Linked DNA regions of Homo sapiens. The protein of the gene in region 2 purifies or fractionates together with the protein of the main gene of each other region. This does not show direct contact. Each region holds a gene or a part of one and is shown on either strand. Other genes may lie near its edges.

What was found.
Region 1: the proteins of DIAPH2 (region 2) and DOCK1 fractionate together in Homo sapiens (co-fractionation; one large-scale study listed by BioGRID). This does not show direct contact.

Annotation. Positions count from the first base shown.
Region 1 is NC_000010.11:127,408,909-127,412,732, reverse strand, and holds part of DOCK1 (dedicator of cytokinesis protein 1), read right to left. Parts: intron 3,697-3,824; coding exon 3,555-3,696; intron 3,421-3,554; coding exon 3,342-3,420; intron 2,479-3,341; coding exon of another isoform or gene 2,317-2,478; intron 1,894-2,316; coding exon 1,809-1,893; intron 1-1,808. UniProt on the Homo sapiens protein: Involved in cytoskeletal rearrangements required for phagocytosis of apoptotic cells and cell motility. Along with DOCK1, mediates CRK/CRKL regulation of epithelial and endothelial cell spreading and migration on type IV collagen.
Region 2 is NC_000023.11:96,957,310-96,961,133, reverse strand, and holds part of DIAPH2 (protein diaphanous homolog 2), read right to left. Parts: intron 3,307-3,824; coding exon 2,986-3,306; intron 1-2,985. UniProt on the Homo sapiens protein: Could be involved in oogenesis. Involved in the regulation of endosome dynamics.

The DNA.
Region 1 (3,824 bases), on a different chromosome or scaffold from region 2:
AGGATCCCATGACTGGCAGACCCCTGAGGGATTGGGAGGGAGACTGGGTAGCCACCACTCTTTACTTGAGGCAACCCTGCTGGAAGGGTTCCGAGCTTTGCTCTGGTCAGGAGTAGGGTGTTAATTCACCTTTGACCTTTGCAGCCTAGATGCCTTCGGACGGCACACAAGAGAAGCCATTCTCAGCAGAGCCGGTCCTCCTTGGGGGTCCCCGGGCTAATGCCTCCTTGCAATACAGGAGTACAGAAGGATTTCCGGAGGTTTCCCAGGCAAGACGGATAAACATTAACATTTTAAAAAAATTATGGCTTATTTGATGCCTTTTCAACATGGATCCACTCACTTGAGCCCAGGAGTTCAAGACCAGCCTGAGCAACATAGACCCCACCTCTATATAAAAAAATAAATAAAATAAAAATACAAATGAATCCATGAAAGCAGTTTGTATGTAGAATTTTTAAAAGGCTCTAGGGCCAGGCGCGGTGGCTCACGCCTGTAATCCCAGCACTTTGGGAGGCTGAGGCGGGGGGATCACGAGGTCAGGAGATCGAGACCATTCTGGCTAACACCGTGAAACCCCGTCTCTACTAAAAATACAAAAAATTAGCCGGGCGTAGTGGCGGGCACCTGTAGTCCCAGCTACTTGGGAGGGTGAGGCAGGAGAATGGCGTGAACCTGGGAGGCGGAGCTTGCAGTGAGCTGAGATCATGGCACTGCATTCCAGCTTGGGCGACAGAGCGAGGCTCTGTCTCAAAAAAAATAAACAAATAAAAATAAAAAAATAAAGAAAAAAGGCTCTAAAGATGTTTGCTGTTATTTCTACAACTCGAATGCCGTGGTTTGCAACAAGGGGCAGATGTTTTATTTTGCAATGTCTGGAAACTTTATTTTTTTGATGGAGTTTCACTCTCGTTCCCCAGGCTGGAGTGCAATGGAGCGATCTTGGCTCACTGCAACCTCTGCCTCCTGGGTTCAAGCGATTCTCCCGCCTCAGCCTCCCAAATAGCTGGGATTACAGGCGTGCACCACCACGCCCGGCTAATGTTGTACTTTTAGTAGAGACAGTGTTTTACCATGTTGGTCAGGCTGGTCTCGAACTCCTGAACTAATTTGATCTACCTGCCTCAGCCTCCCAAAGTGTTGGGATTACAGGTGTGAGCCACCATGCCTGGCCTGGAAATCTTTTTGATTGGTTGTCCCAACTGGGGTGGTGGCACTGGCACCTAGTAGGCAGTGTTCAGGGATGCTGCCAAACATCCCTGGATGCACTGGATGGTCCCCACCACAGAGAATAACCCGGTCCGTATTGCTAGTAGTGCTGGGGTCAACCCTGCAGTTGTGTGTTGTGCTCCACTGAAGTTCAGGTGCTGGATACTGAATGAGGAATGAGCACCCGGGTCCAGATCCAGTTCATGTGCTGACTGCTGTGTCACCTGCAGAAAGCCACGTCAGCACCCCGCACCTCAGCACTCGGTGGGTCCATTTTTAACTAGAGATGACAGGCACCTGCTCTCTCACCTGGGGCTCGCAGGGAAGGCAGTGCGCTACTCATATGGGAGCTCCGGCATTTGGACGGCACAGTCTCCTTATTAAATATCTCAGTGACCTTAGTCATATTGTTAGTGAAATGGCAATTAGTTTTTCTAACTTTGGAGGGGGTAATAGATTAAGATTTCTGCACATAATACACAAAGACATTTAATATGGCTCCGTGGCTGCCTCTGAGGCCACGCTTCTCCAGTGGCAGTTCTACTGGTGGCGGAATGATATTTTTTGTTGTTTGGTTTGGTGGTTTGTTTGTTTTTTACCGCAAATTCATTGTCTGGGTTTTTCTCTCCCTTCCGGATTGGCCGAGAATATTCAAATCGCTGGACCTCGTTCACCCTGTAAAAACTGTACAGAGACAGACAGATCATTAGATATTTAACCCGGCAAATAGCCAATTTGCTTTTGGACACGGGGTCTGGCCTTAGAACATGTCACTGCCTCCTGTAAAATGTCCCTAACCTTGACCTGAAGCCATCGCCTTGGTGTCCTCTCCCAGCCAGGGAAATGTTGGCAGGTGGAAAAATTAACTTGAGTTTTTGCCTCTTCCCTGTCCCTGCCAACCCTCGAGGGAAAACAGAAGCTGAGTAAGAGTGAAATGAGCAAAAACAGAGGAAAGGTGAAGCGAAGGAGAGAGAAAAAAGCTTTTGTGTTCAACGTATGTGTTTATTATTATTTTAAAAAAGTATTACATACCTTAGTTTCAGATCTACAAAGCACAGATTTTGCAACCACCCCAAGAGTGACACACAGGAAACATAAGTAACCTGCCTCCGCGGTCGGGGTACGAGGCAGGCTTTCCGCATGCACAGGGCAGGGCGTGGAGAGACTGAGACTGATTTCTCCCCTGCACTGAAATGCAGGCAGGCTTCCACAGCAAAAGAAACTACTGCATCTGAGAAGGCTCTAAGCGTCACTATTTGCTTAAGGCCTCTGAAAAAAAATGTTGCAACCCTTAAAATGTATGCCTTGCGAGAGCAATCATTTGTAAATAAACAGGGTCCCAGTTTATTTCCCATTATTGCTGATGCAAGGTCAAAGAAACGATGAAAGGTTAAAGAAACCACCAAACTTCAGGAAGCAAAATGAAGCTGATCCTAAGGAATATGAGGTCATCAAAGAGATTAATATTTTCACCAGAACATGGATCAAACAGAACAGAAAAGTCTTAATATCAAACACATCTGCTAAAGCAGGTCTTTCTATGCCATTGCTAAGTCAGGTGCGATACAACTGACAGGCAGAAAATCTCACTCAAATATGGACAGTTGACTCAGGAGGTTTAAAAGCCCCCTCATAACCCTACATTATGGAATTGCTGTGCTGTAAGGCTGAAGGGTTCTCCTGTGTGTCACCAGGAGCAAATGTGCAAATCCCATTTCCCGCCTTCTAAAATGCAAACATTCAGGCCACACTCACATGTATGAACTTGGCTTTGCTGGGAACAGGCAGGACTTGTGCACTGCTGTGAAGTTCCCTAGGGGATTGTACCCCACAGGGCAGGTCTATAAAGGAGACCAGACGGCCTCCACTGCCCTCTTAGGTTTTTGCTGTCAGCTGACTTTGGGAAAGGAATAGGCTTTGCACGCTCCCAGCACATGGATTAACATCTCCTGTCACTTTTTTTGGATGCTGAAAATAATTAGCTTCCCTTGCTCTTCAAAGAGGACAGAAAGAGCATTTGGAAAGCGAATCCATGGCCAAAGTCCGTCCTTTAAAAGGTGGAATTATTAGCAAGAGATCTGTACACAGCCTCTTACAACCCTCACGTTGGGTAAGAAAAATGGGATTATTACCTTACAATCTGCTCTGACACTGGCCTGTGAAACTTAGGAGGCAGATCGAGTTTGGGCTTCACTGTGAAGCACTGAATATCTGAGGTGAGGGGGTTAAGGATCACTAAGGCAGCATAGACATCAACCATGAGAGAGGCCCCCCACCACACCCAACCACCCAAATGAATGGCATCACCATGGTTTCAGAGTTGATGAGGTTGTCTTAAAGGATACACTGGCCAGGAGAGTTTTTAATATCGTCGCCTGGTGGAGATGTTGTCTTCATTTTCTCGGCGTTTGGAAACTGAGTTAAGAGCCGAGCCTCAAAATCTTCCCGGCGCTCATACTCTTTCCCTCGGTAAATGAAAACTTTTCCCTGAAAAGGGTGACATTCATTTCATAACACCACAGAGAAAGGGCCAGGAAGAGTTCACATGCAATATGCTGGCCTTAAAATATGCCTTACGGGTTCTTACAAAATGTCATTAAATTTAAGAACAACTT
Region 2 (3,824 bases):
AACTAAAGAGCAGGAAATTCTTCCTAACTCATCCTACGAGGCCAGCATTACCCCAATACGAAAACCAAACAAGGACACAACAATTAAAGAATATCCCAGATGAACACAGGCATAAACATCCTCAACAAAATACTAGGGAACTGAATCCAACAGCACATCCAAAAGATAATACATCATAATCAATGGGATATACCCCATGAATGCCAGGATTGTTTAACATATGCCATTCAATAAACGTGATACATCACAGCAAAAGAATGAAAAATGAAAACTATATAATTATCTCAACAGATGTAGAAAAAGCATTTGATAAAATGTAACATCCCTTCACAATAAAAACTCTCAACAATTAGGCAGAGAGGGAACATACTTCCATATAATAAATGCCATATATGACAAAGCCATTGCTAACATCATACTGAATGGACAAAACATGAAAGCCTTTCCTCTAAGAATTGGAACAAGACTAGGATGCTCACTTTCACCATTCCTATTCAACATAGTACTGGAAGTCCTAGCCAGAGCCATCAGTCAAGCAAAGAAATAAAGGACATCCAAATTGGAAAAGACAACATCAAATTGTCCCTCTTTGCAGACAACATGATCTGACATTTGGAGATACCTAAACACCCCACAAAAAACTCATATAATTAATAAATTCAGTAAGTTGGAGGATACAAAATCAACACACAAAATTTATTAATGTTTCTATAGCTGAACAATAAACTTGCTGGAAAAAAAAATAAAAAGGCAATCTCATTTACAATAGCTACAAAAAAATAAAAAACCTAGGAATAAATTTAACCAAAGAAGTAAAAGACCTTTATAAGAAAAACTACAAAACACTGATGAAAGAAATTAAAGAGGACACAAACAAATGGAAAGAGACAATGCTCATAGAATAAAGGAATTTACACTGTTAAAACGACCATACAACTCAAAGCAATCTACAGATTCAATGCAATCCCTATCAAAATACCATTAACATTTTTTCACAAAAAATAGGAAAAATAATCCTAAAATTCATATGGAACCACACAAGAGCCTGAATAGCCAAAGCAATCCTGAGCAAAAAGATCAAAGCAGGACATTGACTTCAAAATATACTACAAGGCTATAGTAGTCAAAACAGCATGGTACTAATGTAAAAAGAGATATATACACCAATGGAATAGAATAGAGAACCCAGAAGTAAATCCATATATTTACAGCTAACAGATTTGGCACAAATGTACCAAGAACATGCAATGGGGAAAGGACACCCTCTTCAATAAATGATGATAGGAAAACTGGACATCCATTTGCAAAAGAATTAAACCTGACCTATATCTCCCACAATATATAAAAATGGACTCAACATTGATTAAAGACTTAAGCATAAGACCTGAGACTATAAAACTACTAGAAGAAAACAAGACAAATGCTCCAGGACACTAATATAGGCAAAGATTTTGTGGCTAAGACCTGAAAAGCACAGGAAACAAAAACAAAAATGGGTAAGTGAGATTATATTAAACTAAAACGCTTCCGCATAGAAAAGGGAACAATTAACAGAGTAAAGAGACAATCTGTTGAATGGGAAAAAATATCTGCAAACTATCCAACAATGGACTAATATCCAAAAAATACAAGAAACCCAAACAATAGCAACAAAACAAATAATCACATTAAAGAGTAGACAAATAATTTAAGTAGACATTTCTCAAAAGAAGACAAACAAATGGCCAAGATATATGAAAATGTGCTCAACATCATTAATCACCAGGGAAATACAAATCAAGACCACAGTGAGGTATCTTACTGGCATCTTATGCCAGTTAGAATAGCTATTATCAAAAAGACAAAATGCTGGCAAAGATGTGGAGAAAAGGGAACTTTCATATACTGTTATTAGGAATGTAAATAGTACAGCCATTATGGAAAACACTATAAAGATTTCTCAAAAATATAAATAATAGGATTACCATACAATAATGCTCCTAAATAACAGGATTACCATACAATAATGCTGTAATCTGACCACTGAGTATTTATACAAAGGAAAGGAAATCAGTATATCAAAGAGATACCTGCACCCTCATGTTTATTGCAGCACTAGGCACAATGGCAAAGATATGAAATCAAGATATGAAATCAAGCTAAGTGTCCATCAACGGATGAATGGATAAAGAAAATATAGTATTGAGACATAATGGAATACCATTCAACTATAAAAAAGACTGAAATCCTGTCATTTGCAGCAATATGTATGGAATTGGAGATCACTATGTTAAGTGAAAAAAGCTGGACACAGAAAAACAAATATCATATATTCTCACTCATATATAGGAGCTTAAAAAGTGAGTATCATGAAGGTAGAGAATAGAATGATAGTTACCAGAGACTGGGAAGGGTGTGTGTGGGAGGTGGGAGGGTGAAGAGAGATAGGTTAATGGGTATGAACATATAGTTAGATAAAAGGAATAAGTTCTACCATTTGATAGCACAGTAAAGTGACCATAGTTAACAATATGTTGTATATTTCAAAATAACTAGAAGAGAAGATCTGAATGTTCTCAACACAAACAAATGACAAATGTTAAAGGTGATGGGTATCCTAAATACCCTGACTTGATCATTACACATTCTATGCATGTAGCAAAAATCATATGTACCCCATAAATACGTACAAATATTACATATCAATAAAAAATTTTTAAAGAAAAGCTATGTTAAAAGAATCAAAATTGCTTGTCATTTGTTGGTATATTTCAAATATTATTCTCTACATCACTTCGATTTTCCTTTTGCCTGCTTCACAATGTCAAACTATCTGGAGAGTTTCCAATTATCTACAACCTAAATTGAAAGATGGACATAAAATGATGAACCCACAAAGGAACGGAAAGAGTCAGCAGTCATACTCTCAAACATTATACAATGTGTACACATAGCAATGATCAACAAAAGCTAGACAAAGTAAAAAAACTCTAGTTTTAGTATTACCTTTGACCAATTGATTCTCTTCATGGACACTTCAGGTTTATACATTTTTTTCTGCTTCATTCCATAAGGTAGATTAAGTGATATTCCTGGGGGAGGAGGAACTCCTCCAAGGGGTGGTGGTGGAGGAGGTCCCCCAAATAAAAGTGGTGGTGGGGGTGGTGGTGGTATCCCCATCATTCCAGGTAAAGGAGGTGGTGGAGGAGGAAGAGGAGCTCCTCCGGGTAGAGGTGGCGCGGGTGGTGGTGGAGGCGGCCCTACACCTGGCAATGGAGGTGCTGCAGGAGGACCTGGAATTCCTGATGAACTTGAGAGTACTTGTGCCTGAAATATAAATAATCCAAGTTTAAATGCTTATAAAATATAATTGAAAAAACTGAAGAAATATATATCAATAGATATTTGTAGTTTATTTATCTTATGTTTTAAGATCATATATACTTTTTTAGATATTACTAAAATATCTAAATATTTAGCAAGATCTAAGGGTTTAACAGTATATGAAAAAGGCCTGTGTAGATTTTTTATAAGCATTATAAATTCTGGACAGTGACTACTTCTGTTAACACACAAATGCTAGGAAAGTTGGTATCTGATAGGGTTTGGCTCTGTGTTCCCACCCAAATCGTGATCATGAGCAAGCTCTCACAAGACCTGAAGGTTTTATACGGGGATTTTCCCTTTTTGCTTGGCCCTTCTCCTTGCTACTGCGATGTGAAGAAGGATGTGTTTTGCTTCCCCTTTGGCCATGATTGGAAGTTTCCTGAGGCCTCCCCAACCCTGCAGAACTGAGTAAATTAAACCTCTTTCCTTTATAAATTACCTAGTCTCAGCCAGGTGCG